Linked DNA regions of Homo sapiens: region 1 is reported to be linked to region 2. Evidence: microRNA targets listed by miRTarBase, many of them from high-throughput screens and not tested one by one. Region 2 holds a microRNA gene; the other region holds the end of a gene's coding sequence.

What was found. The annotated mature microRNA hsa-miR-762 reads GGGGCUGGGGCCGGGGCCGAGC and lies in region 2 at 3,319-3,340, shown strand. An mRNA with a match to its seed (bases 2 to 7 or 8) in the 3' UTR can be bound and repressed. Matches are read on the target gene's strand: a 7mer-m8 pairs with bases 2 to 8, a 7mer-A1 pairs with bases 2 to 7 and ends in A, and an 8mer does both.
Region 1: the mRNA of MYL12A is a reported target of hsa-miR-762. Seed matches in the 3' UTR shown: 7mer-m8 at 4,157-4,163.

Annotation. Positions count from the first base shown.
Region 1 is chr18:3,255,223-3,260,289 of GRCh38, reverse strand. MYL12A (myosin light chain 12A) reads right to left here. Exons shown (of 4, transcript NM_006471.4): 4 at 4,054-4,544. The coding sequence ends at 4,372. MYL12-AS1 (MYL12A and MYL12B antisense RNA 1) reads left to right here. Exons shown (of 4, transcript NR_130145.1): 3 at 3,968-4,048; 4 at 4,452-4,854. Among named protein-coding and RNA genes, the nearest start is that of MYL12B, 4.4 kb to the left of the region's middle.
Region 2 is chr16:30,890,633-30,895,703 of GRCh38, forward strand. It overlaps MIR762 (microRNA 762), which reads left to right and starts at 3,271; the gene lies at 3,271-3,353. BCL7C (BAF chromatin remodeling complex subunit BCL7C) reads right to left here and starts at 3,445. Exons shown (of 6, transcript NM_004765.4): 1 at 3,221-3,445; 2 at 2,580-2,658; 3 at 2,208-2,316; 4 at 1,954-2,115. The coding sequence starts at 3,312. It overlaps MIR762HG (MIR762 host gene), which reads left to right. Exons shown (of 3, transcript NR_110942.1): 3 at 3,916-4,588. RefSeq lists enhancers at 2,402-3,034, 2,573-2,902, 4,646-5,071 and a silencer at 3,283-3,762.

The sequences.
Region 1 (5,067 bases), not on the chromosome of region 2:
ATGTTGGCCAGGATGGTCTCAATCTCTTGTCCTCATGATCCGCCCACCTGGGCCTCCAAAAGTGCTGGGATTACAGGCGTGAGCCACCGCGCCTGGCTAGTATTAGACACATTTTAAGTGCTCAATAGCCACATGTGGTTAGTGTCCTTATTGTATGGCACAGAGAGCATTTCCTTAATTACAGAAGCTTCTATTTGACAGCACTATTCTGAAGAAATAATTCTAAGGTATATTGTTCTCTCTAGATGCAAAAGAAAAGCCTATAATAGGCTTTGTTTAATCATGAATAAAAATTTATTCACTAATAAAAATAGCTGGATAGCTAAATATCTATCATTGGGAAATTGTTAATTATAGCATGCCCACATCAAAGATAACTGAAGTTAAGAATGGTTGAAAAAGAAATATACTCAAAACAATGGTGGCTATGCCAAAACATGAGATATAATTTAAGTAGTAAACGAAAAAACAAGTTGTAAACTCATTACAACTCTAAAATGTGTGTGGATAAATACTGGAGAAAAGTCACATTTCCTGCTATTTGAGCAGACACAGAGAAATCTAGACTAAAAAGATATAGGGACTTGGAAGATGGAAGAGCAAGTGGAAATGACTCGAATAAGCAGCAATGGGAAAACTGGGCATTTCTTCAATGTGGGATTAGCTACTACAATCCCTTTATGGACAGAAAAAATAAACTGTACCCGTGAAGAGGACCTAATTCGACACACACAAGTCTGGCATATTGGACCTGCTCAGGAAATCGAAAGTGAACTATTTCAGAATCCACTAGTACCAAACTGACAGGCATTTGTATGCATAGTCTTATAAAATCTTCCTAACAACCTGTTAATGAAATTCTACCTTGAAATCCATCCACTTTTCTAAGGGCAATCCTACGTGGTCTAGGTTCTGTCACATCCTAGCTCTTAGACATGATCCATTTTGTTTCACTAATTGTTCCCCCCTAGTTTGTTGTCTTCTACTCTGCCTATAAACAGGCTTGAATTTGAAGATATGCCCTTTGCCCCTTCTCACTGGCCCACTCGTAAACAAAATAACTACTATTTGGAGACCTAATGTGTCCCAGACCATTTGTCTTTCATGCTTCTAATTTTCAGAAGAAACTTGGATGGTATTGGCCATTTTACAGATGAGGAAACTGGCAATTAAGAACACAAAGTCAAATAGGCAGGTGCAATTCACTTAAGTATGGCTCCAAATCCGTGCTGCTCTTAATCACACAAATGCTGCTTTATATATTATGTTCCTAATATGAACCAACAGTATTATTTCCGTTTTATAAATGAATAAATAGGCCAAGGAAGTTTAAATAACTGACTTAAGGTTATAGAGCCATGACGTAGCAACAAACGGGAATTAAGTGTAGGTCTGCCTGACCCCACACCTAGGCATTATTCACTATCCTGTGCTGCATTATGGATTCTGCACTCAGAACTCTAATAACTCTAGCAAACATGACTAACGACTTGTCACATCTGGGAGGGTCTCATTTAAACCTTCCCATACTCCACTTTTCTGTGTTGGACACTGCCAACCTCCTTACTCTTGAAATTAACTAGGTTTCCGTAAGACTGTTTTTGTGGCTCTATTTACCTCTCCAAACTCTGATCATTTTTTATCTGATCCTCAAGTCTAGGTGTTAAGCCTCTTGCTGTCCTTCCTCTTTTCACTTTGTAGCAAATGGTTTCCTTTCCTTCTCAATTTGCTGTTACTTGTCTCTTATGCTCAGGCCTTCCTCCTTTCTTTCCCAGGAGCATTCAATTCCTGCTCTCATCAAGTTATAGATTCTTTCATCAAGTAAAATTTGGGGCCTGGAATCAAAATGACCATATCATCATATGCAGGTGGATAAGGATGCCACCCCCATTAGGCTGGTTTTGTCCGATTTTTGTTTTCTTTTTCAAGACAGGGTCTCGCTGTCACCCCAGGCTGGAGTACAGTGGCACAGTCAGCTCACTCCAGCCTCAAACTCCTGGGCTCAAGCAATCCTTCCACCTTAGCTTCCAGAGTAGCTGGGACTATAGGCACCCACCACCATGTCCGGCTAATTTTTAATTTTTATGTAGAGATGGGGTTTTGCTTTGTTGCCCAGGCTGATGTCAATCTTCTGGCTTCAAGCAGTCTTCCTACTTCGACCTTCCAAAGTGCTGGGATTACAGATGTGCGCCAACGTGCCTAGCCAGATCTTTTGAAATGGTTTAAGTATGACTTTCATCATGGAAACTTTTGAGACTGATTTTTCAGTCAAACACACCATTGAAATGGATGCTTTTACCTTTCTGTTGGCAATCACTCTTGTTTAAGCAAAGAATGCTATTACTAAATTAGGAGAATTATTTCATTCAGGGTACATCATTGTTCTTAATGCAAGTTGGTTCATTAAGCACTTATCTGAAAGGGAAACAGGGGCCCTGCAAGAGATCCTTTTAGTAGTACCTTGTTTTTCATATAGTGCAAACAATGCTATCTGTTCTTCACTAGAGATGTAACAAAGCATATGATAATTTTTTCTCTTGACATGGAAATTCAATTCAAAAAACAAGATTTTAGCACCATGGCCATAGCCTGGAAAAAGTATTTTGGCTTAACCAGTGAATAAAATTCAGAAACAAAAGACAAAGAATGAAGGCAGGTTCTAAGATTCTAATGCTGAAGAGGTCAAGGACTAGCTTTGACTAGTCCTTCTATTCCTATAGCACTGGCCTTCCCACGTTACAGGATCTAGCTGATCTATCTTATTGGCTGCAAAGGCCTGCTGCCCAGAAGGCTTTTAGTAATTGTTTACTGAATGAGGTAATGGTTTTGTCCAAGGAGAGTCATGTTAATCGTAGCATAAAACTTAAAGTTATTATAGTAATTGTCAATTACTCATCTTCATAGGCTAATTGTCAAATCTTTTCAACCAAATTTTTCTCCATTTCAAATCTTTTAAAACTCATGCTCTTTGAGAGTCAGAGTTTTGGGCTGGGCATGGTTGCTCACACCTGTAATCCCAGCACTTTAGGAGGCAGAGGTGGGAAGATCACTTGAGTACAGGAGTTTTAGACCAGCCTAGGCAACATAATGAGACCTTGTCTCTACAACAAATTAAGAAATTAGCCAGGCATGGTGGTGCCTGCCTGTAGTCCCAACTACTCAGGTGGCTGTGGATCACTTGAGCCCAGGAGGTCAAGGCTGCAGTGAGCTGTGATCGTGCCATTGCACTCCAGCCTGGGTGATAGAGCGAGAGACCCTGTCTGGAAAAAAAAGAGAATCTTGAAGCCCTTTGAGAGTCAGATTTTTAAAGCTGAAAAAGAACGAAACTGTCTGCCACTCCCTGATTAACTGTGAAACAGTTCTGCATTTCTGCAAATAGTAGAAGTTATTTTTAGGACTGAAATAATGACCTCACTTTCCCAGGCATGCAGGTTCAGCTGTTTTGATTGTGGGAAGGTCAGGAATGTCCAAAACTCAAACATGGACTCATGGTGAATCTCTGCATAAACAAATATCTTTCAATACACATTGCTGTGTTAAAGAAAAACTACATATAATAAAAAAAATACTGCATTATATTTCCAGCACTTTAAAACATAACATAAAAATCTCTCTTTGGTAGCATTCCACAGAACCTTTAAGCCAAAATGGTTTTTAAAAATATGACAAATTGAAATTATACTCAGTAACCTGGTCTAATTTTAAATGACCAGAAATTACAAAAGTTTAAATAAAGTGGAAATGTTGGCAGGTATGTCAACTTAAGGACTTAAAGCTATGGAAACTATCATATATGCAAATTCTACAGGAAATTATTTTAAAAATTGGAAGACAAAGTGCAGAAAACCTGATTAGGGCAGTTAAAATTGGATATCCTTGGGAGGAGGAGGAGGAATGGATAGTAGAGGAGATAGGATTGTTAGGAAAACTGGAGGAAGAGAAAGCTAACAACCATATCATTTTCTAGGATTTCCCTCATCTACCTTTCTTTGGGAGATACGACTGAAACCAACAAAAGCCAAGTTTGGTAAATAAGAAGTTTAAACAAGTAAGTATTTTATCATAAAGTTTAATTATGATTCAGAAAAAATCGAGCGAATAACTTTCTCTGAAAAAATATATTGACTCTGTATAGACCACAGTTATTGGGGGAGAAGGGCTGGTAGGTTAAATTATCCTATTTTTTATTCTGAAAATGATATTAATAGAAAGTCCCGTTTCCAGTCTGATTATAAAGATACATATGCCCAAAATGGCTGAGAATAAATACAACAGGAAATGCAAAAGCTGTAAAGCTAAGGGCATGCAAGAGAAAATCTCAGAATACCCAAAGTGGCAACAAGGAACGTTTGGCTGGAATTTGAAGTTATTTCAGTCATCTTTGTCTTTGGCTCCATGTTTCAGGATGCGTGTGAACTCGATGTAATTGAAATTCCCCTTTTTATCAATAGGTGCTTCTCTGTACAGCTCATCCACTTCCTCATCTGTAAACCGATCCCCCATGGTTGTCAGCAGCTCTCTCAAGTAATCTTCCTGTATGGTGCCTGGAGAATAAAGAACAAGGGATCAGAATACATACTATTCTGAGGGTTAATTACAAAGAATATCTATACTTGACTAAGCATGTTCTGTATGTTACAAACTATAAACATGCAAATATATGAACTACAGGGTGTCCACCTACTTAAAACAGCCTCAGCAGAGAAGTGCCTAGAAAAATGCCTAGCTGCTTAGCAGCACTGCTCCGCTCTATCATTTGCTCTATCATTCTGCCTCCACATTCAGCTTCTGATCTCTTGATAAGAGAGACTAAACCTATGCCTAAACAAAGTAATAAAAAGTATGGTTAAAGAATCTAAGCCTTACGGTTCCTTCAAGTGGCATGAATGGTCACATCTTATTCTACAAACAAGTAACATTTACCTGCCAGGCTAAAATCAACACTACATCATACACATCAATAAAGTGGTACAGTGGAAAGAATACCGGAAGCTTGAGGCCCAGTTTTAAGAAGCTATTTTATTTCAGGCATTTCACTTCATCCCTGACTTTGGTTTTCTCAGATGT
Region 2 (5,071 bases):
TGAGGTCAGGGGTACGAGACTAGCCAGGCCAACATGGTGAAACTCCATCTTTACTAAAAATACAAAAATTAGGCCAGGCACGGTGGCTCACGCCTGTAATCCCAGCACTTTGGGAGGCTGAGGCAGGCGGATCACCTGAAGTCGGGAGTTCGAGACCAGCCTGGCCAACATGGAGAAACCTCGTCTCTACTAAAAATACAAAATTAGCGGGGCATGGTGGTGCATGCCTATAATCCCAGCTACTCGAGAGGCTGAGGCGGGAGAATCGCTTGAACCCGGGAGGCAGAGGTTGCGGTGAGCTGAGATTGTGCCATTGCACTCTAGTCTGGGCAACAAGAATGAAACTCTGTCTCAAAAACAAACAAACAAATAAACAAAAAAAACAAAAATCAGCCGGGCATGGTGGCATGCCTGTAATCCCAGCTACATGGGAGGCTGAGGCAGAAGAATCGCTTGAACCTGGGAGGCAGAGTTTGCAGTGAGCCAAGATCGTACCACTGCTCTCCAGCCTGGGCAACAGAGCAAGACTTCATCTCAAAAAAAAAAAAAAAAAAGGCTGGGCGTGGTGGCTCGTAATCCCAGCACTTTGGGAGGCCAAGGCGGGCAGATCACCTGAGGTCAGGCGTTTGAGACCAGCCTGGCCAACATGGCGAAACCCCAACTCTACTAAAAATACAAAACCAGCCGAGCATGGTGGTTCATGCCTATATTCCCAGCTACCCAGGAGGCTGAGGCAGGAGAATTGCCTGAACCCAGGAGGTGAAGGTTGCAGTGAGCCAAGATTGTGCCGTCGCACTCCAGCCTTGGCAAGAGCGAAACTCTCTCAAAGAAAAGAAAAAGAGAAAAGAAAAAAACCCAACCACGTAAAGTGTTTACCAGGGCACCTAGCACACAGTAAGAGCTCAATAAATACTAGCTGTTGTTATTCCTATTATTGTTAATCACCCCTATGACTATCACTATTATTTATTCACTCAACAGATATTTACTGAGCACCTACTATGTGTCCCATATTATTCTGAGGATACAGTAGTGAACAAGATCACATAGGGCCAGGCACAGTGACTCACGCCTATAATCCCAGCACCTTGGGAGGCTGAGACAGGAGGATCATTTCAGGCCACGAGTTCAAAACCAACCTTGGCAACATAGCGAGACCCTACCTCTACAAAAAATTTAAGAATTGGCTGGGCATGGTGGCACACACCTGAGTCCCAGCTATTTGGGAGGCTGGGGCCAGAGGATCCCTTGAGCCCAGGAGTTTGAGGCTGCAGTGAGCTATGATTGCACCAGAGTACTCCAGCGTGGGTGACAGAGACCTTGTCTCTAAAAAAAAGGGGGGGGAGGGCCGGGTGTGGGTGTGATGGCTCACACCCGTAATCCCAGCACTTTGGGAGGCTGAAGGTGGAGGACTGCTTGAGCAAGTGAGTTTGAGACCAGCCTGGGCAACATGGTGAAACCTTATCTCTACAAAAAATACAAAAATTAGCCAGGTGTGGTGGCATATGCCTGTGGTCCCAGCTACTTGGGAGGCTGAGGCGGGAGGATCGCTTGAGCCCAGGAAGTTCAAGGCTGCAGTGAGCTATGATCACACCACTATACTACTCCAGCCTGGGTGACAGAGCGAGACCCTTTCTCAAAAAAAAAAAAAAAAAAAAAAAAAAAAAAGGATCAATATGGGCCCAACATTCAGGAAACTGACATGAGAGTGAGGAGAAAGATAAACTAGTAAAAAATTAATTTACATGAAAATCTCAGACAGTGATATGTCTGTATAGATTCTAAGAGACCAGAGGAATGAGACTGTAGCTACAGGGAGATTCTGCAGGAGTCGGAAGGCGCCTTGAGGAGGGTGCACAAGACGGGGAGCAGGTATAGGGATGAGCTGGTAGGTTAGACTCTGGAGAAGACAGGACTTAGAGGAGAGAGCTCCTGGGAGGTACCTGGTCCTACCTCTCTCTTGGCCCAGCCGTGGGGGCTGAGCCTCCTCAGGGACCCCTTCTGGGGGTCCGGCAGGTGACACAGGGCGGCTGGGCTGGGGGGTGCCCCCAGGACTGGGCTCTGTGCCCTTTTGCAGGGAACCTTCCGAATGGAAACTCTGGTTGCTGTTCTCATCTGCGGGAGCAAGAGCCGAGATGGTTGGCCTGAGATCCCTAGTACACTCCTTCAGTCCCCACAGCCCCCCGCGTTTCAGGATCCCTACCTACCATTAAGATCCAGCAGGATGAGAGGGCCACCCCCTCGGGGACTGGCGCCCCTGCCCCGACGTTCCCGGCCACGGGATCTCTCTGCCCCGCCACCTGCCCGCCTTCGCTCCTGGGGGTTAGAGGATTAGGGTCAGAGCTCTTGGAAAGCCCCACCATACACCTAAGGAAACTGAGGCACTGAGAAGCAAAAGGGCTCAAACTCAGGGGGTGTGGAGCAGAAAAGAGGGCAAAAGGGGAGGAGCTGCTAATGATGGTTCCCGTCTGTCCTGCTGCATCTGAGGTCTCGGGGAGCTGGAGGTAGAGGTCAGCGTGGGGAGGAACTTGCCTGAGGTTGCACAGATGCAGGGCCTTGTGGGAATGGGGGTTGCTCACCTCCTCCTGGGGATCCACCACTGGCACCCACTTGAAGATACGAAGGGAAGTGTCGCCCACAGTCACCCATCGCTTCTCCCTGTGGGAGGGTGGGGGGCTGGGTCAGAGAGGCCTGAGGGGAGACCCACCCCCCTAGGAGCTGGACACATCTGGGGGTACCTGCAGAGGTTGAGGAGGCACAGGAGGATAGCAACAGTTTTGCTAATGGGGCATAGTTACATGGAGGAAGAGAGTCCTGCAAACCCCAGGGCATAGGCGGTGGGTGCCTCTAGAGAGAGGATATGATTTGGGGCCCTGGCTCTGCGGACCCCTGGGGCACACATGGGGGGCGTGGCTATGGGCCTGGCCCGGGATCAGAGCCCTGCAGATCCTGGGGCGCACCTGCAGGAGGGGTGTCAAAGCTTTAGGGGGCGGGGCACAAGAGGGGGCTCCCGCTCTGGGAGGACACGGCTGGGGATCACGCTTTGTAGACCCCCAGGAGTAGCCAGGCGAACGGGGACAGAGCCCTGTGGATCCAGGGCAAAGCTAGTGGGTGGAGATACACCGAACACCCGGGGCCCAGAGCTGGCGAGGGCAGCGTAGACGCCTTTGGTGCTGGTGGTCCCGCTGTGTCCCGTCCCTGGCCCCCGAGCAGCGCTCACCATCTCCGGACCTTCTCGATGGTCGCCATCACCTTCTTGATGTCATCCTTGGCCCGGCTCCGGGTCTCGGCCCGTACAGTCCGGCCGGCCATGCTGGCGGGGCTGGGGCCGGGGCCGAGCCCGCGGCGGGGCCGCCTCCCGTCCGGCGGGCTCAGGCTCCGCGCCAGGCCCGGGCGCCGCGCTCTCGGCCTGCCGTCCCCCCTGGAGTTGGCCGCGCCCTCTCTCGTCCCCAACGCCTCCGCAAGTCCCCGCCCCGTTTCCTGCCGCCGCGCCCCGCCCCGGCCTGTCCCCGGAGCGGCCCGGTGGCGCGGGCGGCCAGAGCCCAGGCCTGGAAGCCCGGCCGGCCCCGCCCCGACCCGGGCCCGCCCCCTTGGAGCGCCTGGACGCTCAGCGCCCCCTGCCCGCCGCCGAGAGCGGGAGTTGGGGACGGACGCGCGAGTTGGGGACGGAGAGCGGGAGTTGCGACCGGACGCGCGAGGCAGGGCCGAGGCCGTGTGTTCAGACCACGTGGGCGCGGGGTGCGCGACAGGGTCTGTGTCCTGCGCTGCGTGAGCCGCGGTGGGTGTCCGCGAAACGCTGTGTGTGGAGTGCGTGCGTGTGTCCGCCCTCGCCAGGCTGTTGGTCTACACCGCCCAACTTACTCAGTCATCCATTCATTCAACAGTCTTGTTAACTGAGTGCCAATTACGCTCCAGGCGCTGCGAATACGAGTGGGTCTCCACCACCAGAATGGCTAAAGTGAAAAAGACCGCACCGTGTGGAGGCGAGAAAGTAGAGCGACTGGACCTCTCTTGTATTTCTGGGGGAGTGTAAATTGGTAGAGACATTTTGGAAAACTGGCAGTTTTCTAATGAAGCCGAACATATGCCACCTCTGTGATCCAGCAGTTCCACTCCTAGGCTGTCAACACCCAGCAGAAATGTGTAGGTGTGAGCATCAAGAGGGTGCATGGGAATGTTCAGAGCCCTTTCATAACAGCCCCAAACTGGAAATAACCCATCAACAGAATGGAAAATGAATGATGCCCTACTCACTACCATGCACATAGACACAGCAACGGGATTGACATGCCCGGCTACACACAGCAACATAGACAAGTCGCATGATGAAATCTTGAGTGACAGAAGCCAAATGCAACAGTACATACTAGATGGTTCCAGGTGTATTACGTTCAGAACCAGACAAAACTAATTTATAGTGCACCAAAGTCAAGATAGTGATCGCCCTTAGGGTTGGGAGGGGACGAGGGGAGAGCTTCTGGGAGCTGATCCAGTTCTGTTGTGTAATCTGGTGCTGGTTCCCTGGGCATATGTATTCTGTGAAAATCCATCACATGACTTAAATAAAATGTACATTACTTAAATAAAATGAGTGTGTCTTTGTTGACTTTATTTGAGGCTGGCTTGTCAGCAGATAAGACCATGTCAAAATTTGTGCTGCTGTTGTGTGTGTGTGTGTGTTTCAAGGTGTGGCTGTTGTGTCTGTGAATTTGGGCGTGACCATGTCCAGAGGTTAAGGGTATAAGGGGTTAGGAGCATGGTTAAGACAGCATTTTTTTGAGCCAAGCTGCTTAGGTAAAATCCCAGTTGTGCCACACCTAACTGTGTTACCCTGGACAAGTCACTTCTCTCTATTCCGCATCTATAACACAGGAGTTAGTTAATGTGCATATGGCTCTTAGAACAGTGCCCAGCACATGGTAAATGCCCAATAAATATTTACAGTTAATACACATGTGATTGTGGGCCCTACCAATTGTCTGGCTCAATTCTATCTGCTGTGCCCTCTCCAGTTAAACTCTTTCTTCTTTTATTCCAGCAATTGCTCACGGCAATACACACACCCACTCAC